Homo sapiens: one gene and its partners. The protein of the gene in region 3 purifies or fractionates together with the protein of the main gene of each other region. This does not show direct contact. Each region holds a gene or a part of one and is shown on either strand. Other genes may lie near its edges.

Region 1 (7,982 bases), on a different chromosome or scaffold from region 3:
AAATCTCTTTGATCTTATGTTCACCTGCTTTCCTCTGAGACATACAAAGCATTTGGGGTCCGGGTGGTCCCCAAAGATACCAAAATTCACAATTGGAAGGACATTCCACGCGTGGATCAATGAGAGATACTGACTTTTAAAAACATAGCCTCTTTTGGGGGTGCTTAAGGGGAAGAAGTTCCCAGATGTGCACACAGCTGCTCACAGCTGGAATGCTGGTGCATGGACTAAGTTGTAAATCATAACTGGCAACTGAAAACAGTTTGCTACATAGGGAGGGAAGAGGAGGCGAATGGAAGAAAAACGTTCAAGCTGCTGAAAAGGAGCCAGGGCGAAGAAAATGCTAAAATCATCATACAGGCAGTAATCTTAAATCAGGCATAATGCAAACTAACAAATTTCTTCTCCAGTGGTCTTAAGAAATAAACACAATCCCCTCCTATACCTTTAAAACATACAATCACCTATCTTTCCAGCTGTCTACCTGACAGCAGCCAGTACTGCTAAGAATGCTATCAGGGGTCCCAGATGAACATTATGATGTAAGGGACATGTGGGGGTTGTTTTCAAGGTCGGCAGCTTCAGAACCTGGCCTAGGAACAAAACTCTGTGCACTGGCCAGTGGCTCCAAGCCAGATTATTCAGACTGCTCCTTTTTAAAAATGACAGAGGCCAGGTGTGGTGGCTCATGCCTGTAATCACAGCACTTTGAGAGGCCAAGATGGGCGGATAACGAGGTCAGGAGATTGAGACCATTCTGGCTAACACGGTGAAACCCCATCTCTACTAAAAATACAAAAAATTAGCCAGGCATGGTGGCATGTGCCTGTAGTCCCAGCTACTAGGGAGGGTGAAGCAGGAGAATCGCTTGAACCCAGGAGGCAGAGGTTGCAGTGAGATTGTGCCACTGCACTCCAGCCTGGGCAACAGAGTGAGACTATGTCTCAAAAAAAAAAGAAAAAAAAAAAATTCTAATTTTACTGGTCTGGGGTGCATCTTAGGCACTGGAGATTTTTTTTTTTTTTTAACGTACCCCCCAGGTGATTATAATGTGTAGCATTGAGAACTAATGCTCTAGAAAGGTATAAATCTAATTAGAATGAAGATACATAGGGATGATTGTGGCAGCTACTCTGGAAGGCTGGAAGATTCCGAAGTAGACTTACGCTTTTATGAAATGTAAAGTGTATGATACATCCTTCACCACAAAAGGCTTCATAACCTTGAAATAAATAAAAGGAATGGAAGCTGGGGGCGGGAGGAGGTGGTAGAGTGTGTGTATTTATGCGCCCACACACAGATGAAAAGAGAGAGAGGCAATAACAGTGCTTATGCTACTTACTTGAGAGCTAAAGATCAGAAGGATTAAAGCAACTAAATCAAACCAAAATTTCATAAATACACTTCCCAAACTGAAGAAGATTCAAAAGACAAAAATTAATTTTGTACGCCAAGTATGTAGAAATAATAGATCAAGAGAATATAAATGCCACTGAACTGTACATTTTAAAATTGTTAATTGAGCCAGGCATGGTGGCTCACACCTGTAATCCCAACACTTTGGGAGGCCAAGGCAGGTGGATCACCTGAGTTAGGGAGTTCAAGACCACCCTGACCAACATGGAGAAACACCCTCTCTACTAAAAATACAAAATTAGCTGGGCATGGTGGTGCATGTCTGTAATCCCAACTACTCTGGAAGGCTGAGGCAGAAGAATCACTTGAACCCAGGAGATGGAGGGTGCAGTGAGCCAAGATCATGCCATTGAACTCCAGCCTGGGCAACAAGAGTGAAACTCCGTCTCAAAAAAATAAATAAAAAATAAAAATAAAAATACAAAAATTATCTGGCTATGGTGGCACATGCCTGTAATCCCAACTACTCAGAAGGCTGAAACAGGAGAATCACTTGAACCCAGGAGGTGAGGGTGCAGTAAGCCGAGATCACGCCCATGCACTCCAGCCTGAGTGACAGAACAAGACTCTGTCTCAAAATAAATAAATAAATAAAATATTTAATTGTATATTATATGATTTTCACTGCAAAAAAAAGATTATCAAGGATTGAAAACAAATGCTATCACTGGAACAAAAGAAAGGGCCGGGGCCGGGCGCGGTGGCTCACGCCTGTAATCCCAGCACTTTGGGAGGCCGAGGCGGGTGGATCATGAGGTCAGGAGATCGAGACCATCCTGGCTAACAAGGTGAAACCCCGTCTCTACTAAAAATACAAAAAATTAGCCGGGCGCGGTGGCGGGCGCCTGTAGTCCCAGCTACTCGGGAGGCTGAGGCAGGAGAATGGCGTGAACCCGGGAGGCAGAGCTTGCAGTGAGCCGAGATTGCGCCACTGCAGTCCGCAGTCCGGCCTGTGCGACAGAGCGAGACTCCGTCTCAAAAAAAAAAAAAAAAAAAAAAAAAAAAAAAAAGAAAGGGCCGGGCGCGGTGGCTCACGCCTGTAATCCCAACACTTTGGGAGGCCAAGGTGGATGGATCACAAGGTAAGGGGTTTGAGACCAGCCCGGCCAACATGGTGAAACCCCGTCTCTACTAAAGATACAAAAAATTAGCTGGGCATGGTGGCGTGTGCCTGTAATCCCAGCTACTTGGGAGGCTGAGGCAGGAGAACTGCTTGAACACAGGAGGTGGAAGTTCCAGTGAGCCAAGATCGCACTATTGCACTCAAGCCTGGGTGACAGAGCGATATTCTGTCTCCAAAAAAAAAGAAAAAAGGAAGTGAAATGGTAAACATTTCAAAGCCCCGGCTGGGCATGGTGGCTCACGTCTATAATCTCAACACTTTGGGAGGCCAAGGCAGGCGGATCACGAGGTCAGGAGTTCAAGACCAGCCTGACCAACATGGCGAAACCCCGTCTCTATTAAAAATACAAAAATTATCAAGACCATCCTGGCTAACATGGTAAAACCCCGTCTCTACTAAAAATACAAAAAAATTAGCTGGGCGTGGTGGCAGGCGCCTGTAGTCCCAGCTACTCGGGAGGCTGAGGGAGGAGAATGGCGTGAACCCGGGAGGCAGAGCTTGCAGTGAGCCAAGATAGTGCCACTGCACTCCAGCCTGGGTGACAGCAAGACTCTGTCTCAAAAAAAAAAAAAAAAAAAAAAAAATCAGCCAGGTGTGGTGGCATGTGCCTATAATCCCAGCTACTACTGAGGCATGAGAATCGCTTAAAGCCGGGAGTTGGAGATTGCAGTGAGCTGAGATCCAGCCACTGCACTCCAGCCTGGGCAACAGAGCAAGACTCTGTCTCAAAACAAAACAAAACATTTCAAAGCCCCTTTCTATTCTTAAAAAATTCACCAATGATCCTCCTTCTCTAAGATAACTAAGTCTTCTACTTATGGAGAAGGCAGAGGAGTGGTTTAACATTTTACAAAGATTTAATTTTGCCCCCTTAATACAATCCAGTGGCCACAAATTACATTTCTCACTTAGCCAGGAGAGGGAGCTGTAATCAACATACCTCCCTGGAAGCTCTTTTGTTCAACAATTTACCTTATAGGTCCATCCTTACAATAGAAATAACCAAAATATGATACTTTTATTTATTATTATTATTTTGGTGGCAAAAGAATAGTTTTTGGGGAAAAGGGAAAGGAAGCTTACCTCTCTCTTTTTTTTAGATTTGATGTCATCGGCACTGTTTGAGAAATTGGATTTCCTCTTGTTACTTTCTGACTTCTCCCTGGGTTTATTATTTTCACCCTCCTTCATCTTCTTATACTTTTTCATAAATTCAGAAATTAGCTCAGGGCAATCCAAGTTTTTCTCAGGTTCCCAAGTATTGTGCTCCCTGGGTAAGAAAAATGGGAAAATTAAAAAAAAAAGGGGGGGGTAAAGAATGAGGAAAAAAATCCAATGCCTTATTTCAAAGAGGACATTCGGACAAAAAGGACAGAGAAACCCTATGCTTTAAAGAAGATAACAAATTTGATCCTAGATTTCTACCCAGGAAAAATGAAAAAAAAAAAAAAGCCCACACAAAGACTTATTTACAATTGTTTACAGCAGCATTTTAATAGCCAAAAACAGAAAACAAATTCAAATGTTCATCAATGGATGGTGACATGGAAAAACAAAATGTGGTATATCCATACAAAGGAATATTATCCAACAACAATAAGCAAAATATTAAAACATGCTACAACTTGGAAGAACCCCAAAAACATTATACTAAGTGAAAGAAATAAGACACAAGATACTACATACTAATTCCATTTACATGAAATGTCTGGGAAAGACAAATTTATAGAGACAGAAAGCAGATCAGCCGGGCACGGTGGCTCACACCTGTAATCCCAGCACTCTGGGAGGCCGAGGCAGGCAGATCACTTGAGGTCAGGAGTTTGAGACCAGCCTGGCCAACACAGTGAAACCGTGTCTCTACTAAAATTACAAAAATTAGCTTGGTGTGGTGGTACACATCTGTAGTCCCAGCTACTCGGGAGGCTGAGGCAGGAGAATTGCTTGAGCCCGGGAAGGGGAGGTTGCAGTGAGCTGAGATTGTGCCACTCCTGCCTGGGCGAAAAAGCCAGACTCTGTCTCAAAAAAAAAAAAAAAAAAAAAAGCAGATCAGTGAATGCCTGGGGCTGAGGGAGGGAGTTGTAATTAACTACAAATGGGAATCAAGAGAATTTTGGGGGACACAAAAATGTTCTGAAACTGGATCATAGTGGTGGTTGCATAGCTCTATAAATTTATTCCAAATCATTTAATTGGAGCCAGGCACAGTGGCTAACGCCTGTAATCCCAGCACTTTGAGAGGCACTCAGGAGTTCGAGACCAGCCTGGTCAATATTGCAAAACCCTGTCTCCACTAAAAATACAAAAATTAGCTGGGCTTGGTGGTGCACACCTGCAGTCCCAGCTACGCAGGAGGCTAGGGCATGAGAACTGCTTGAATCTGGGAGGCTGCGGTTGTAGTGAGCCAAGACTGCACCACTGCATTCCAGTCTGGGCAACAGACTGAGACTCTATCTCAAAAAAAAACAATAATAATAATTTAATTGGGCTGGGCGCAGTGACTCACGCCTGTAATCTCAGCACTTTGGGAGGCTAAGGTGAGCAGATCACTTGAGCCCAACAGTTCAAAGACCAGCCTAAGCAACATAGCAAGACTCCTGTCTCCACAGAAGATTTAAAAATTACTCAGGCATGGTGGCTTGCACCTGTAGTCCTAGCTACTTGGGAGGCTGAAATGAGAGGATCCCTTGAGCCCAGAAGGTTGAGGCTGCAGTGAACCGTGATTGCACCACTGCACTCCCACCTGGGTAACAGAGTGAGATACCATCTCAAAAAAAAAAAAAAAAAAAAAAATCACTGAATTGTACAATTTTTTTTTTTTTTGAGATGGAGTCTCACTCTGTCTTGCAGGCTGGAGTGCAGTGGTGTGATATCGGCTCGCTGCAACCTGTCTCCTGGGTTCAAGCCATTCTTCGGCCTCAGCCTCCCCGGTAACTAGGATTACAGGCATGCGCCACCAATTTTTGTATTTTTAGTAGAGACGGGGTTTCACCATGTTGGCCAGGCTGGTCTCGAACTCCTGACCTCAAGTGATCCGCCTGCTTCGGCCACTCAAAGTGCTGGAATTATGGATGTGAGCCACCGCATCTAGCCTGAATTGTACAATTTCAATGGGTGAATGTTATGGTGTTTAAATAATACCTCGATAAAGCTATTTAAAAACCCAAAATTCAGCCAGGCACGGTGGCTCATGCGTGTAATCCCAGTACTTTGGGAGGCTGAAGCAGTCGGGCATGGTGGCACCTGCCTGTAATCCTAGCTACTCAGGAGGCTGAGGAGGGAGGATCACTTGAACCCGGGAGGCAGGAGGTTGTGGTGAGCTGAGTTCGAGCTATTGCACTCCAGCCTGGGCAACAAGAGTGAAACTCCATCTCAAAAAAAAAAAAAAAAAAAAAAGGTTTATTTAGATGGGAATGATTTGAACACATGCCATAATAACCTGACTCAAGTAGAAAGCAGAAAGACGGAAAAATCTGAGCTATTTACTCTTGACCTAAACAACTTTCTACAAAAGGAACATAATATTGAGACAAAATTTATTTCTAAATCATTTGAGCTAATATGGGAAAGTTTCTCCTTTATATCCCTTCTCTCAGCAGAAAAAAAATTCCTCGGCCGGGCACGGTGGCTCAAGTCTCTAATCCCAGCACTTTGGGAAGCAGAAGCAGGTGGATCACCTGAGGTCAGGAGGTCGAGACCATCCTGGCCAACACAGTGAAACCCCATCTCTAATAAAAATACAAAATTTAGAAGGGCGTGGTGGCGGGCGCCTGTAATCCCATCTACTCAGGAGGCTGAGGCAGGAGAATCGTTTGAACCCGGGAGAAGGAGGTTGCAGTGAGCCAAGATCACGCCATTGCACACCAGCCTGGGCAATAAGAGCAAAACTCTTGTCTCAAAAAAAGAAAAGAAGTCAAGAAAAAAAATTCCTCACACAGTAACTTTCCCCAAAACCCACAGACCATATAGTTTACCATCCCAGAGGAAATTAACATACCAATATCAAAAGGTGTACCAAGACTATTACACAAGCCGAATACACTTGGGGGTTGGGAAGAATCTGTTGATAGCTAGAAAAGCCAGTCCTATAATGCGATTATCCCTTTTCCTAACACTTTGGTACTGCTGCTTCTACTTCAGTTTCCACCCAAAAGACAACATAGTATGATTTAAAAAGAGCCTGGGTTGGCCAGGAATAGTGATTCACACCTATAATCCCAGCACTTCAAGAGGCCAAGGCAGGCAGATCGCTTGAACCCAAGAGAGCGAGACCAGCCTGGGTAACACAGTGAGACCCTGTCTCTATTTTGAAGATAAAAAAGCAGGGCGTGGTGGCTCACGCCTGTAATCCCAACACTTTGGGAGGCTGAGGTGGGCGAATCACAAGGTCAGGAGTTCGAGACCAGCCTGGCCAACATGGTGAAATGCTGTCTCTACTAAAAATACAAAAAGTTAGCTGGGCGTGGTGGCAGGCACCTGTAATCCCAGCTACTCGGGAGGCTGAGGCAGGAGAATCGCTTGAACCCGGGAGGCGGAGGTTGCAGTGAGCTGAGATCGCGCCACTGAGCTCCAGCGTGGGCGATAGTGAGAGACTCTGTCTCAAAAAAAAAAAAAAAAAAAGATAAAAATATGTAAAAATTTAAATTAAAAAAAGAATTAAAGTTTTGAAAGAGGCAAGGGTCTTGCTATGTTAACCAGACAGGAGTGCAGTGGCTATTCACAGGTACGATCCTACTAATGCTCAAAATGGGAGTTCTGACCTGCTCTGGTTCACTCCTACTTAGGCAACCTGGTGGTCCCTCACTCCTGGGAGGTCACTATATTGATGCCAAACTTAATGCAGACACCTGATCGGTTTAGTGCACTACAGCCCAAAACTCCTGGACTCAAGCAATCCTCCCACTTCAACCTCCCTAGTAGCTGGGACCACGGGTACATACCACCATGCCTGGACTCTAAATGCTTTTGTGAGAATCGAAGAGAGCACAAGAGGTAGAATTTGATCACTGTCTAGCACAAAGTAGGCATTTAGTTATAGACAATGCTGATTTGTTCCAGTCTTTTATGAAATCCAGGGCATTTCTGAAAAAGGACCAATGTTTACTTTGTCTACCCCAAACCTTACCTTTTCCCCTTTCATCTATGGTAAGGTACCAGTAGCTCAATGACAGAGAAAGAGTTTCAAGTATCTTTCAAACACCCAAATATTTCCAGTGGAAATGGGCCCAATAAACATCTTCAAAATCTTCTGGTGTTACTTTAGTTCCTATCTGTTAGTGCTCTAGAGGTCTCTCAAACTTTAACAGTTCTCATCTCTAGTGGAAGCTGTGATACCACTCCTCTCTACAAACAGAGGGCATCTTCTGATTGTTGTGCTACCCATACTTGCACTCTGGGTGCTAGAGATGCTAAGCATCCTGCAATGCATGAATGATCCCACCTA
Region 2 (7,982 bases), on a different chromosome or scaffold from region 3:
TCCCACTTGGGCCTTCCAAAATGCTGGGATTGCAGATGTGAGCCTGCACGCCTGGCCCTAGCTACCATGCTTTATGGTAAAAGGAGTATTGGGAGCCTTTTAAAATTACCAAGAATGGGTATAAAAGTTTTAAATGGATACACAAGAATAAAGAAGTTTGCTGTGAAGGCCAGGCGTGGTGGCTCATGCCTGTAATTCCAACACTTTGGGAGGCCGAGGCAGGTGGATCACCTGAGGTCAGGAGTTCGAGACCAACCTGGCCAACACATAGTGAAATCCCGTCTCTACTAAAAAAAAAAAAACAAAAAAAACAAAAAAAAAAACAACAAAAATTAGCTGGGCTTGGTGGCACACGCCTGTAGTCCCAGCTGCTTGGGAAGCTGAGGCAGGAGAATCGCTTGAACCCAGGAGGCGGAGGTTGCAGTAAGCCGAGATTGCGCCACTTTGCACTCCAGCCTGGGCAACAGAGCAAGACTCCGTCTCTCAAAAAAAAAAAAAAAGTTTGCTGTAAGATTAATTGGGGCTGTTTTATGAGCTTTCTGGCTGGACATATCAGAAAACTATTTTGTATCGAGTGTGAGAAGAAGCCTAACACTTACTATAAGCAGCATACAATATTATCACCTGTCATGTCCCTGGTTTTCTTACCATCCAGATATTATCTAACCAATAAGAGTGCTCCCTAATGCCCTTTTTATTTCATTTATCATTTTAGCAGCGTCACCCTTTACACCAGAAAGCTGGCGGGCACTATGGGGAAAAAACAAAACAAGAAGAAAGTGGAGGAGGTGCTAGAAGAGGAGGAAGAGGAATATGTGGTGGAAAAAGTTCTCGACCGTCGAGTGGTAAAGGGCAAAGTGGAGTACCTCCTAAAGTGGAAGGGATTCTCAGAGTAAGTTTCACTGACACAGGTAAATGTAGCCACCACGTGTTTATCAGGAGTCTAGAGATGTATGAGACCTCCAGTGCTATGATGGATACAGTGTGACTCAGTCCCCACCTTCATGGCTTATTGTTTAATTAGGAATATGGCCTACTGCTTATAATACAAAGCAGAATGACTTCTTTTTAAAAATTATTTCTTTTGAGACGAGGTCTCGCTCTGTCACCCAGGCTGGAGTACAGTGGTGCAGTCATAGCTCGCTGCAGCCTCAACCTCCCAGGCTCAAGGTATCCTCCCACCTCAGCCTTCTAAGTAGCTGGTACCACAGGCATGCACCACCATGTCTCGCTTAGTTGCCCAGGTTTGTCTCTTAACTCCTGGCCTCAAGCAGTCCTCCCACCTGGGCCTCCCAAAGTGTTGGGACTACAAGCATGAGCCACTGTACCCAGCCCATAGTGATTGCTGAGAAACAGTTTTGTGTGTGGCTACAGACCAATTTAAATTGACAAATAAAAGTCATTTGCCTTTGAAGGAAGCCAGTTTCTTAGCTTTCTATTTATACTAAAAAGCTTCCCCATTCCCCAAGAATTTCAGCTTTTCCATAGACATCTGAGGTCTTGTCCTCTTACGATTATCCTTAGTATGAGTATACTTATTTGAGTGAAAGTGTGACTTGCTGTGCCCTCTGGTTTCAGTGAGGACAACACATGGGAGCCAGAAGAGAACCTGGATTGCCCCGACCTCATTGCTGAGTTTCTGCAGTCACAGAAAACAGCACATGAGACAGATAAATCAGAGGGAGGCAAGCGCAAAGCTGATTCTGATTCTGAAGATAAGGGAGAGGAGAGCAAACCAAAGAAGAAGAAAGAAGAGGTAAGAATAGAAGTAAGAATTTTTACTAGCCCACAATTCAAACTACTGTCAAAGTAGTTTTGTTCTGCTTCTTCCCTGATATTAGCAGCTGTCTCTTCTTAGTCCTGAAATCTTAGGTAGGCTAATGCCTACAAAGTGAGAGTGTACTGTCATGAAGCCACATGATCTCTTACTTTTTATCCATGGTACAGGAGCAGTAAATGGAAAACTTGCTGGGGACAGATATAAGGGCAAGTGAATTCATTCTTGTAAAAAATAGTTTTCAATATTTAATCATTAAAGGTGTGAGGTGGCTATTTTGACTTAATCAGTATCTTAAAGTAAGTTGTTTTTTGAGAGTGAAGAGATAGTTGTAAACATTGATTTTGCTTGGGCTGTATGTCCCTTTTCACATAGGGAAAATCTCATGCGCTTCAGACATTGATGAATAATCACTCCAAAGGATTCTAACAGCTCTCTTACTTGAGCCAAGGTATTGGTGAAATATTGGCAAAAGAGTTTGTGATTGGGCCGGGCACGGTGGCTCACACCTGTAATCCCAGCCCCTTGGGAGGCCGAGGCGGGCGGATCACAAGGTCAGGAGATCAAGACCATCCTGACTAACACGGAGAAACTGGGTCTCTACTAAAAATACAAAAAATTAGCTGACGTGGTGGCATGTGCCTGTGGTCCCAGCTACTTGGGAGGCTGAGGCAGGAGAATCACTTGAACCTGGGAGGCAGAGGCTGCAGTGAGCCGAGATCGCACCACTGCACTCCAGCCTGGGCGACAGAGTGAGATTCCGTCTCAAAAAAAAAAAAAAAGAGTTTGTGATTACATTAATCAGAGACACAGGAATGGTTCCAGTCTGGATAATAGTCCCATATAGATAAAATTGTTCTACCCATCTTGTTTTTACAGTCAGAAAAGCCACGAGGCTTTGCTCGAGGTTTGGAGCCGGAGCGGATTATTGGAGCTACAGACTCCAGTGGAGAGCTCATGTTCCTGATGAAATGGTGAGTCGGCCAGTGGCTCTGTGTGGTTGTTTTTTTTCTTCTCCCATTGGTTTCATGCCAGAGGAAAAGAGCTGGACCTTCGAAATTCCAATCACCCAAGTGTGAAATTGTTAAGATGGCATAGTCCTTCGATAGTGACCCTCGGCCTGACTGCCACCCTGGACTCATGAGTTACAGGTAGGAGCCCTTAGGAATCTTGGGTCTTTGCCCATATTTTTAGGAGGTGGGAGACAATCTAGAGTGGAAAGAGTGTGGGAAGGAATTACATTTCACTTCTGTAAATAAAGGGGGAGAAAATGAAATGTGATTGGACCACCCTCTCCTTCTACCACCTCCTTAATAAAGATGAGGCTGGCCCCAGAATCAGAAATTCTGCTAAATTCTCAGGGTTAGGAAAGAATCTGTAGTTCTTCCTTTTGTCCTTAATTGTTGGATCCCTTTCAATTTGTGCAGATTCTACAATTACAGGATCAGCCAGCAGGGGTCAGCAAGGCTCCTTAACTGCTATCAAGCATAGAGCAAGCCTGCTTTTTTCCATTATGAGTATAAATACCAGTGATAGTAATACTCCATGAAACAGCCTAATGAAGATAGTTATCCCAACAATCTCTGTAATTTTCCTACTCTGTCAAAAGAAGGCCATTCTTCCTATTTCTTGCTCATTCTCCCCACAAAGTGGATCTCAATGATTGTATTTAAAATTTGGAAGGAATAATTCTAAGCCATTGCCAATGAAGGCAGCATTCTAGAAACTTTGTCCTTTAAAACACACACACACACACACAGTCTATGGAGCTTTGTCCTTTTGTCAGTCCAGAACTTACTCTGAAACTCGTGTCTGTACTAATTATCCTCTTTTACAGTATGGCTGGAGGGGCCTAACTTTAGCACCACTGAAAGCCAGAGTCACAACTAACTAACCTATTCTCTTCTATGTATTCCCTAGGCAGTTACTGGAGCTGCCCCTCTTTTAGCTGATTTATTGTTAACCTATAAGAGAAAAGTTCATTTTTAAGATGCTGCTTATTGGGTGGGAGAAGTTATACTGTGAGTTACTCAGTTTAGCTAGAATATACTTTTTCTGCATGTGACCAGTGTGAGTTACAGTAGTATCTCCATATTGCTTAAGATTGTACTCCTTTGGTTGACTCACTACTGTCTTTTTTTTTTTTTTTTTTTTTGAGACAGTCTCACTCTTTCGCCCAGGCTGGAGTGCAGTGGCACGATCTCAGCTCACTGCAACCTCCGCCCCTCCGGGTTCAATGATTCTTCTGCCTCAGCCTCTCAAGTAGCTGGGATTACAGGCATGTGCTACCACGCCTGGCTGATTTTTGTATTTTTCATAGAGATGGGGTTTCACCATGTTGGCCAGGCTGGTCTCAAACTCCTGACCTCAGGTGATCCACCCACCTCAGCCTCCCAAGGTGCTAGGATTACAGGCGTGAGCCACTGCACCTGGCCGACTCACTGCTGTCTACAGGTTAAAACTGGATTTGATTATAAGACAAAGTACATTTTAAAAAGTTATTTTACTGGAGAATAGAGATTTTTGTATATTTCTAAAAGTAGTAAATATTTCTGGGGAGTGAAATGACTAAATTTAACTCAGAGGGTGTTGTTCAGCTGTCAGCAAATGGCAGCATGCTTCAGATTCCCATTTCCCTCCCATTCTCTTGGGTCCATTGTTCAAAAACATACATTATCAGCTTACTCTTCTGCTCTATGGGACTATGTGGCTCTGATTTCCTGTTATTAAGGTTCTAGAGATTTGGGGTGGTGCTTTGTCAGAGATGTCATCAGGTGTCTCCTGCTTGCTTTACGCTACTGCTTCTGTCTAGGACATTCCTAATAACCTGAAGATAAGAGTTTGTTTTTTTTTTAAATGAGACAGAGTCTCGCTCTGTCACCCAGGCTGAAGTGCAGTGAGGCGATCTCTGTTCACTACAACCTCCACCTCCCAGGTTCAAGCGATTCTTGTGCCTCAGCCTCCCGAATAGTTGGGATTACAGGCGCACGCCACCATGCCTGGCTAATTTTTGTATTTTTAGTAGCAACACGGTTTTGCCATGTTGACCAGGCTGGTCTTGAACTCCTGGGCCTGCCCACCTTGGCCTCCCAAAGTGCTGGGATTATAGGCGTGAGCTACTGCTCCCTGCCTAAGAGTTTACTCCTAATTCCCTTATAATGTGTATGATTTTCAAATTTTGAAAACTTTTTTTTTTTGAGACAGAGTCTCACTCTGTCGCCCAGGCTGGAGTGCAGTGGCATGATCTCGGCTCACTGCAAGCTCTGCCTCCCAGTTTCACGCCATTCTCCTGCCTCAGCCTCCCAAGTAGCTGGGACTACAGGTGCCTGCCACCACACCAGGCTAATTTTTGTATTTTTAGTAGAGACAGGGTTTCACCGTGTTAGCCAGGATGGTCTCGATCTGACCTCGTGATCCACCTGCCTCGGCTTCCCAAAGTGCTGGGATTACAGGTGTGAGCCACTGCGGCCAGCCACTTGAAAACATTTTAAAATTCAGAAAACTACAGCTCCCTCATTTTCTACTCCCGATGTTGAAACATCATTTCAAAGCACCTGGAAGTTATGCGAGGATAGCATTTGGAAGTGTCAGTGTAATTACGATTATGCAAAAAGTGTCCATCTTCATTTGCTCTGGCCAATGCCAGATGTGGTATTTAATCCTATTACGGGCCGGGCGAGGTGGCTCATGCCTGTAATCCCAACACTTTGGGAGGCTGAGGCAGGTGGATCACCTGATGTCAGGAGTTCAAGATGAGCCTGGCCAACATCTTTAGTAGAGATGGCAAAACCCCATCTCTACTAAAAATACAAAAATTAGCTGGGTGTGGTGGCGCACACCTATAATTCCAGCTATTAGGGGAGGCTGAGGCAGGAAAATCGCTTGAACCCAGGAGGTGGAGGTTGTGGTGATCCGAGATCATGCCACTGCACTCCAGGCTGGGCAACAGAGTGAGATTCTGTCTCAAAAAAAAAAAAAAAAAAATCCTATTACAAAGCCAAGATTTCTCCATGGGTTCTTATCAGCTGGGATATGGCTTTTGGAGGAGTGTGGTAACTTCTCTTCCCTCAGAGAATCTAGGTATCCTCTCTTCCCTCAGAGAATCTAGAGAGTCATGCTTTTTGGGGCCTTGCCCAGATGTTCAGATGTGATTGGTTAAGTCCATTGACCTGGCTTTTGACATACACGAATCCCCAGAGGGAATTTTCAACAGGAGAGTTAACTCTGAGGATGTCACTTGACATACAATTGCCAGTAAATGCTGCTTGGGCCACGTTTTCATTGTTCCCTAGCCTATTTTTCTAAAATTACCATTTTTAAAGCACTGTCCCCTGGGTTATCCAACTTAGGATAGACCACCAGCACCTGGTCTCAAAGTCTCTCTTTGCTTTATTCTGCAGGAAAAACTCTGATGAGGCTGACCTGGTCCCTGCCAAGGAAGCCAATGTCAAGTGCCCACAGGTTGTCATATCCTTCTATGAGGAAAGGCTGACGTGGCATTCCTACCCCTCGGAGGATGATGACAAAAAAGATGACAAGAACTAACGCTCCTGAGTACCAGCCCCTGTCACATCTGACTGTGGGTTTCAAGTGGGAAGGGAAGGAGTTCTACTTGTCTTGACACCATAGAGGTGGCTTGAGAAGATGTCCTTTGAAGAGCCAGTATAGTTTCTGTGCCCTGCAGCAGCCCAAGTGCTTTAAAGCCGTTTCAAGCTGTATAGTTTGCACACCCATCCCAGTGGAGGGGAAAGGGGATAAGTGTTTCAAGGCAACCTTTTCTGCACTTTGCTGCGAAAAGCAAAGGGCCTTCTATGAAGGACAAAACTTGCAGAATTGGGTGTGTGGGAGAGCAAAAAAATACTGTAGATCTTCAAAGAGCATCTCCACAACCCACAGCCTTCTTCCCAATAGTGTTAACTCTGCATTTTTACAGCGTAGCATGTGTGTAGTTTTTGGCTATTACTGGTGTATTATTTGGGGGAGGGAGGGATGGGGAGGGGAGAAAGGGAGATGGGTAGCATCATTTTGATTAACATTTGGGGCCTGATAGGGGAAATGGTGAAGCAATGGAAAAGAACAGACAACTAATGATTTGCTTCTATGTCCAGAATATTTTACCTTTAAAAAAATGTCATTGGCACCATAAATAAGGACTGTGAGAGACTGTTTAAAAGCTGTGAAAGTCTGAAACCTATAAGCCAAGGTGTTCCCTGCCTAAACTTATTGCTGTTCCCACAAAGGACTAAGCCTGTTCATAAGTTACCAAAGTTGCCATTTTGGAGATGGAAATTGACGAGGAGGGAAGGTCTTTTATTGGAGAGTATACAGTACAAGCAGATCATTCTGCCTTAGAGGTGCTAATTCCCGAAATTAGAAGACCCTTTCTTTTCCAGTAACGAAGTTATAAATATCAGCTTGTTCATCCAAGCCACTGGCTGAGGTGTTAGGAAGAGGAAGAGGGTGGTAGAGGAGGTAAGACAGTAGGGAAAGACAAGGGCCCATGCTCTTAGTGGGGAAAACTCTTGGAGCCGTTTACTTTGAGCTTTGAACACTGAAACCATTGTTGGCAGGGTTCAGTCACTGACAGCACAAGTTTCACTGAATTGATCCAAGAGTTTAGTGATTTCAAAAGCCTTGGTCTCAGGAGAAGATTAAACTTTCATATTGGGCAGTGGTTCACTTTAAAACACACACATACACACACAAAACAATTTTTTAAGAAATCCTAATAAGTAACATACCCAAAATGCTCTGTCTTGAGTCATGAGAACCATCAGTTCTTGATATTGTCTAGACTTGCATCTAGAGCTACGTTGTAAAATTCTTTTAGGCATGTGTTAGATTTCTGTGTAAACTTTGTTTAAATGTAAACTTCATACTACATTGTCAGTTTTTGTCTTAATAAAACTATAGATTTATAATCCCTGATTTCTGTCTTAAGTCTTACCAGGAACCCTTCTTGCCTTATAGGTTCAGCCTGTTGGAAATGGCTTCCTCACTTGAATGGTTTTATTTCTTGAACACTGTAGGCTTGAAAATCTAGTGCCTGGCCTGAATCTTTAAGTGGTCACACCATGTTAATTTAGTAAATACTTACTGGGCATTTATCAGTTGCTGCAGAGGTTGTAAAGATGGTCGCATCATGCTGTCTTCAGTACTGCCAAAAGTTTATTGAGCACTCTGACCTGATAGCACTTCCAAACTA
Region 3 (7,782 bases):
AGGATGCTGAGAGTGCAGGTGAGATGCATGGGCATAAGATCCCACTGAGCAGGGAAGGCAGTGATACTAAAGAACTTGAAAGAATGGGATTTAGTGACTGATTCAATATAGAAGATGAAGGAGGAAAATAAAGACTTAAACAAGATTCCCGATTCACTTATCTGATAGATTTGGTAGATTAATGACCAAAACAGTTCTTGGAAAGTGAGGTAGGCTATAGACAGATGAATTACTCAAAAATATACAGTTTAGATCAAAAAATCTTTTGAGAACAACTCTGCCGTTTTTTAAGAGCAATAAAGGAAGGCTTAGAGAAGTGAAACGAGTTTGCTTAAGTCCTAAGGTACTAAACAAAAGCTGGAAATGACTTTGCAATCCAGGCCATTCTATTATAACCTAGAACCTGACTAAATCTGGAGTGTGACAAGATGGCAGGAAATGCAAATGGTGATGTTCTTGAGAGTCAGTAACACTAAAATTGGTTTGAAACGGTAGGTTCATTTCAGGTGATAGTGGGGAAATACGATCCACGAACAAAACGAAAGACAATTGGAGATCAAACATTTGCTCTGGTAACCCACACGGAGATAATCAAGAGTTGGATGTAGAGGGATATGAGCACCTGAAAATATTCTAATGCAAGAACACTTTATGCTTCAAAATCCTCTCAATGCTATTTGGCAACACAGATGATAGGACATATAAATTTATCATGCCTTAGAATTTTAAACATTAAGAAGAGCTTTTCTTTTAATGTTCTTTTTATGTTACAGAAATACGAAATACTGAAGTCTGATTAGGTCTCTTGTAAGGGGCTAGATATTTGCCTTACCTTTACTACCTTGTAGTCACACAAGTATTCCACCTCATAATTGTTTAGATTCCTTTTGGTGATTCCAATCGATTTACATGTGAGCTTTTCTTTTCTACATAATTCCTGAAGAGTATCAAGTGAAACTAGGCAAGGCACACACCAAGCTACAATAAGAAAATAGAATTCTTTACTAATGAAATAGCTATTCAATTAAAACAAAAAAGAGAAACTTAAAACCTCTATTCCCCATCTTTCAACTGGCAATTTTAGACTAAAAATTCCTATGACAAGAAACCAGTTACATGTCTTCAAGAAAAAGTTAAACATTAAGGAACTATTTTGTTAAATTGGTGTTCTTGGATTTTCTCATGGATTTCTATTCCACTACGTTTAACTGACATCAGTTAATTTCCATTAAGTCACTTGAAAATGTTTCATGTCTGTAAGCTTTTTTAAGATTATATACAGATGCAGGTCAACAGAGATAATGTTTTTCACTTTCATTGTATTCTACATAGACTACAATCACTATTTTAATAAAATGTAAATCTCTAGGACACTTATTCTTAAAAACATATCTAAAATATACTTTAAAACAATCTTATAATTTGTTAACACGTAACTTTCATTTTTTTTAACTGGACAAAACGAACTGAAATCTAATTAAAATATATTTCTACGGTTACAAACTCATTATATGTTAGTTTTCTCTTTGATATGTTGCATGAAGCTTTAATTCCACTTATTATTCTACCCATACTGCAATATATTATCACCAAGGTGAATAAACTCCAGTTATTAAAAAAATGGAGTATATCGATATTTTGTAATACTTATGGACTGTACTGTTTTTAAAGCCAAACTTTTAAAACGGTGTTCAATTTACATAAGCCATGTACTAAACTCAAAGAAAATTAGACATACTCATCATCAACCCTCCAGAAACCAGAAACTAATTGCGTTCCAGAAGATTTCACCCTCAAATTTCTGTAAGCAGCATGTTACCACACTGAATTTAAAGTGTAAATTAACACGTTTAGGAAAATGGAACAAACTTGTTGTTAGGGCTAGTGTCATGGTAAGCACTTGACAAAATCAAAAGTCCTCTGCACTACCCATCGCTCGGTCACCGAGCTATGTGACTTTAGTGAGGTCTCAATCTTTTTGGCTGTCAGATTCACTGGAAAAAAATGGAGAAAACTGGTGTTACCAAACAAAATCTATCAGTAAACTCAAGCTTTACTTGGTAGCTCTCCAAGGTAGTTGCGATCACCTTTTGCGTTTTGAGGTAATTTCAGGGAAGGGAGAACACTTGTTAGTGGCAATAACTTTTCCGGCCCCTTTCCTCATCCTCCCCACCTCACACAGAAACTTCATTGTCAGAAACCCTTAAGCATAATTTCTACCATCTCACTGGCTGCAAACGATTCCATCCTAAAGCAGTAAAGACAAAGGTATTTTCCTCCAGAAAACGTGGGGGAAGAGGCTGATTGGCTTTGTAGTGGTCGTTTGGGGGTAGGACAGTGATGGGAAAGAAATGACCCCCTAAGTCCCTTCCATCTACAAAAACTAGAGAACGTTTTGTGTTAAGCTGACCTCATTAAGGGAATCACGTATAAAGGAGGTTCCTCTTATCTACTCAAGGTGTGTTTGTGTGCTTTTCCTAAACATTTTTATCTAGTTGAGGATTCAAAACACAACCCGCAAAGGAAATGCTCTTTGAAAATTAAAAAAAAAAAAAAAGTGAACATGAAAAACTGCAAACACGTGGTTAAAAAAAGAAAGACAATCTCTCGACAGTCTCCAGTAATGCAGAAAAAGATTTCACTGACAAAATTAAATAGTTCATGACCACCACAAACACCTTCCGCTGGTTCACAGTAACCCCTGACATTCTCCAAGGAGAAAAATTCAGGGATAATGAGGTCATAATCCCAGCGGAGAGGAGACGAGCTTGAAAACACCTTTACATTCCGGAACGCACGGAAAAGTTCCAGGCTCTCAAAGCGTGCGCGACACCAACACCCCCCGACGCCCACACCCACGCGCGCTCGGTGCCCAGTTCCCCGGTGCCCAATTCCCCAGCGTCCACAGAAATAACACCAAGCTCCCGGTGGGTGAAAGAGTTACCGTAAGCCAGAGGCTGCAACCTCAAATACCCACTTTCTGGGCGATTCTCCAACGAGGCACTCAACCTCCTAGCGTGTCCGCCTTGGGGGGGATTCCTCGCTTATCCCCTTTCTTAGCACACAGGCGCCCCGATTTACTCTCCCCCTCTGATATTAAGGTCATGTTCACGCCGGCGGGCGTCGCTTCCCGCCTCCCACTTCAAAGGCCCGGGCGCATGCCGCACGCCGCGCTCGAACCACCACAAAGGAGCCAGTCGCAGCCGTGCCCCCCGGACCTCCAACCGGGGACTGCCGGGGAGCGGCCTCGAAGCCCGAGGCCGCCACGGGAGACGCGGAGGGGGCCGGGCCGAGCGGGCGGAGAGGCCACGCTCCACTTCCGAAGTGCCCCAGGCTCGGACAGTGCCCACCTCCGCGGCGGGAGCCGGCCGGGCAGGGAGGCGGGTCAGCGGCCTGGGGGAGGATAGGCGTCCGCAGCGTGCGTCCCGGAGTTGGGGTCGCGGCGGGCGGGGAACCGCCACGTCGCCATCTGGCTGGCCCGCGGGACGGCCCCGCCGCCCGGGCCTTGGGAGCTTGCCTGGGAACAGGGAAGGCGAGGGGGCCGCGCTCCAGCCTCACCTCCTCGCGCCTCGGCCCCGACCGCCGCCATCTTGTAGAGCTTTCATTCAAACTGGCGCGGTCTGACGGGATAGCTCAGCTGGCCCGACGCCCCGCCCCTGGCCGGCCCGCGCGGGACTTGGGGGCCGGGGCTTGTTGGGGGACGGAACCCGCACGGCGTCCTGACGTCACTGGCGGCCGACCCCCCGCCGCGGCGGCCAGCGCGCCTGCGCCCCAAAGCTAGGCCCGGCCCCAAGCGCGAGGAGCGGGGCGGGGCGAGCGCGCGTGCTCCCGGATCCTCGGCAGTGTCCGGCGCCCCCTTCCCTTCGCCAGGCCCGTTTGGCGCCTTCACTCGGGAAGACGTCGGCCAGGACTTTGCGCTTTGGAGACGTCTTACTTCGGCAGCACTCGCACACTGCGAGATCCGACACGGGCAGCGGGGACCTAGGGAGCCGGGGACGCTGCCTGTCGGGTACGGTTCCGCAGCTACCGCAGCCCCGTGGGCCATGGTTAGTCTCCCCCCGACACCGCTCCCTCTAGAGCTCCGGGCTTCGGAAGCGGCTGCACGTGGGCATGGCTGGAGAGGTTCCGCTGGCTTGGGGCAGTCGCCGGGATTCCGACTGGTTGGTGTGGGGTGTGGCCTGTGCTATCCAGCTCCCAGCTGATCCTAATGTGCGGCACAGCGGAAACCACCGGTCCACATCAGTGCTTCTCACTTAAAGGGGCTTACGAATCGTCGGGGGTGGGGGAGCTGGACTTGGAATTTTTTAAGAGATGAGGTCTCACTCTGTCACCCAGGCTGGAGTGCAGTGGCGCGATTACGGCTCACTGCAGACTAGACCTCCTGGGCTCAACTTTAATGTAAATTGGGATTGGGTAGGTCTGTAAGGGGACCCGAGCTCCCCTCCCATGTTGTTGCCAAGCTCCTGAGCTCGGCCTGGTGGCGGGTGGGGGCCGGGAGGAGAAGGACACGTTAGTAAGGAAGCTGCAGGACGACTCCAGGGGCCTCCCACCTGGTCTCCACCCCCCTCCCCCACCCATTCTTGACGCTGCATCCATGATTGTTCTAAACAACCTAAAGCAGAAATCTTAGAGCAAATAACGAAAACTGGCAGAAGGCCATTTGATATCTCCTTAAAAAATTCATGTAAAAAATTACATAAACGTTTCAAAGCAGTATGTATAAATTTGAAATACTGGAAATGAACGCAGACCATTAAAGGAATAGTTAATTATTTGATTCCATTATGAAATACTGTCTAGCCGTCTTAAAAAGGTGTTCATGAAGCTTTTAGTATTCAGCAAAACCAAAACAAATCCCCCTGAAATATAGTTTTAACTATGGAAGAAAAAAATGTATAGGAAAATAACGAAATAGCCTTTTCGGAGTGATTTTCTTTTTAACTTCTCGTTTTTAAATATTTAATCATTTTCTACGATGGGAAACACCACTTCCTCACACACACTCATGCTCCCAGACTTTATTTAGCTACAAACGGCATCATAATACAAATACTGTTCTGCAGTCCGTGTGTGTTTCAATGCAACTGCATTTCTCAGACATGTTTCTAAGATTTGAGTCCTTAGTAAATTTTGTATTCCATATCTCATTACCTTGAGATAAGGAATAAAAGGCCCTGTCCAACCCTGTCACCTGGAAGAGCATCCAGGCCCTTTAAGGCTTAGTCTATCTAGGATTATGCCTTCAGACTTGGATACAGCCTCCCGTCCTAACCGGCCCCTGTATTCATTACCTCTCCTGTATGTTTTCAGAGCCCACCAAGGAGCGGCCATCGCTACTCACTGGCCACTCTTGAATCCTTTTTGGCTCCTTTTCCTCAGTCCAACCTGGGTTCCTCAGAGAAGAGACTGTAGTCCTGGGACTGCATTTCTTTTCCGCCCTCTCCCTATGTGACTGCCCCAATTCCCATGGATTTAAATAGCATCTTGACACACAAGATGCCTCACTTATCGTCTCCGGCCCTGGCCTCTGCCTGAATTCCAGGCTAGAATATCCACAGTGCGTAATGGACATATGCCCTTAGGTGTTGCACAAACATCTCAAATTGAACATATCCGGAAAAATACACTTCTGAACTTCGTAGCATTCAGAATAAAACTCAAACCTCCAGATGGCCGGCAGGGCCTCCAGTGATGGGAATCCTGTCTCACCTCACTTGGTGCCACTCTCCCCTTTACTCATTTTCCTGGCCTTTCCCCGGCCCCACTTACCCAGAAATCTTTTACTGTGCATCTCCTATGTGCCAGGCACCTGATAGGTGCTGGGAATATAGCAGTGGATGAGAAAGAAAAAAGACCCAGTCCTCATGGAGCTGACTTCCTAGTGACAGGAGCAGCGGATAAAGCAAATCACTGAAGGCAGCTGGAAATTACTTTCCGGTTAAGAGGACAGGCTCCTTCCCCTCCTCACATGGCTACCTTCAGATCACTTGGGTCTCAGCTTAAACACCACCTATTGACAGAGGCCTCGCATGTTACCTCATTCTTTAGCCCTACTTTGCATCCTTAAAAAGCACTCATCAAAATTTGCAATTATCTTGTCGGGTTTTTGTTCTTTGGTCTTGATTCATAATGAATGCATCGCACTATTTTGTAAATCCAGTGTTTCGTTTCGTGTCTTGAATCCCATCCATTCCAGCGCATAGATGAGGCCCTGTCTGTTCAACATTCATCACCGTGTTTACTATCTAGAGCAGCAATTCTCAAAGTATGGTAATTGGGACCCGAAGACTCTTCACAGGGTTCATGAGCGCAAAACTATTTTCAGACCAACATGTTCTCTGCCTTCCTTCGCTCATGAGTACATAGTGGAATTTTCTAGAGGTTACACAATTTGAATATTGCAACACATTGAACGAAGACGCAGGTACCAGAACATAGCTATCTCCTATTAAGCCAGACATTAAAGAGATTTGAAAAAATACAAAATACTGCTTTTGGCTAGGCAAAGTGGCTCGCACGTATAATCTTGGCACTTTGGGAGGCTGAGGAATTGCTAGAGACCAGCCAGGGCAACCCTACTAAAAAATTAGCTGGGCGTGGTGGCACATGCCTGGGGTCCCAGCTACTCAGGAAGCTGAGGTGGGAGGATCGCTTGAGCCCAGGAGTTTGAGGGTGTAGTGAGCTATGATCAAACCACTACATTGCAGCCTGGGCAACAGAGCAAGACCCTGTCTCAAGACAAAAAACAAAAAATAAAACCCCAGATACCACCCTTGCCACTAATTTTTTGTCTTAGAAAAATTATTTCTCATAAAAAATTAACTTTATTACTTAGAAATAATTTTTAAAATTGGTTTTAATTTCCATATGGTAACTATAGTTATATAACTACATTTTATGTATATGTAACAAACAAAAGCTCTATGGGTTCTCAACATGTTATTTTTTAAGACTATAAAGGGTTCCTGGGACTAAAATGTTTGAGGGTGTTGGTAAATCCTGGCTATAAATGGAGAGAGAAATAAAAAGCCACTGAGAGACACACACCAGGGTCCTCAAGGGAAAAGTAGAGAATCATGACCCTTTCCCAGTATTTTTTTCACAAAGACCACATGATTTCTGGAGTGTCTCCTCTTCTACTGAAATAAACGTTCTCTTCTGAGAGGCAAAGAATCATAGAATGAACACTAGATTAAGAATGTGAATTTAAATGAAATAATCCATGTAATGTGCTTAAAATAGTAAGCAGTCAAGAAAAATTAAGTTTACAAAATAAGCATCTGAATGTTAGTTCAAAATCCACCATTTATTCACTGTGAGACCTTGGATACTTTATTTAACTGCTGTGAATCTATTATCTGGAAAACAGAAATAACCAAGGCCATATTACTCTCTACATAGTACAACTACTCGTGGAATTGTGATGAGATCAAAATTTTAAAATGAGATAATGAATTAAAGCAAATAACAGTATTATATGGTCACTCATTATCATTTTAGATATTGTGATTTTTCCCATAGAACTTTTATGCTAGGATACTTTTAAGAATTCTTATACATATAAAAGCTTTCAGTTTGTGATGAATATTTTGTGACCTCCTGTTAAGGACTGAACGTTTTCATCTCTGAAAAATTCCAGTGTTGAAATCCTCGCCCCCAAAGTGATTATATTGGGAGGTGGGGCCTTTGGGAGGTGATTAAATCATGAAGGTGGAGGCTGCATGCATGGGATTGACACCCTTACAAGAGGGACCCTTCAGAGCTCTCTCGCCCTCTATCCTC

What was found. The genes of interacting proteins can lie anywhere in the genome.
Region 1: the proteins of SUV39H2 (region 3) and CBX5 purify together in Homo sapiens (affinity purification with mass spectrometry; 4 studies listed by BioGRID and IntAct, with this or other methods). This does not show direct contact.
Region 2: the proteins of SUV39H2 (region 3) and CBX1 purify together in Homo sapiens (affinity purification with mass spectrometry; 4 studies listed by BioGRID and IntAct, with this or other methods). This does not show direct contact.

What each region holds. Positions count from the first base shown.
Region 1 is NC_000012.12:54,248,419-54,256,400, forward strand, and holds part of CBX5 (chromobox protein homolog 5), read right to left. Parts: intron 3,810-7,982; coding exon 3,623-3,809; intron 1-3,622. UniProt on the Homo sapiens protein: Component of heterochromatin that recognizes and binds histone H3 tails methylated at 'Lys-9' (H3K9me), leading to epigenetic repression. In contrast, it is excluded from chromatin when 'Tyr-41' of histone H3 is phosphorylated (H3Y41ph).
Region 2 is NC_000017.11:48,069,775-48,077,756, reverse strand, and holds the end of CBX1 (chromobox protein homolog 1), read left to right. Parts: intron 1-715; 5' UTR 716-752; coding exon 753-892; intron 893-1,578; coding exon 1,579-1,756; intron 1,757-2,656; coding exon 2,657-2,751; intron 2,752-6,177; coding exon 6,178-6,322; 3' UTR 6,323-7,698; downstream 7,699-7,982. UniProt on the Homo sapiens protein: Component of heterochromatin. Recognizes and binds histone H3 tails methylated at 'Lys-9', leading to epigenetic repression. Interaction with lamin B receptor (LBR) can contribute to the association of the heterochromatin with the inner nuclear membrane.
Region 3 is NC_000010.11:14,874,696-14,882,477, reverse strand, and holds the start of SUV39H2 (histone-lysine N-methyltransferase SUV39H2), read right to left. Parts: upstream 3,613-7,782; 5' UTR 3,590-3,612; coding exon 3,559-3,589; exon of another isoform or gene 2,945-3,558; intron 979-2,944; coding exon 833-978; intron 1-832. UniProt on the Homo sapiens protein: Histone methyltransferase that specifically trimethylates 'Lys-9' of histone H3 using monomethylated H3 'Lys-9' as substrate.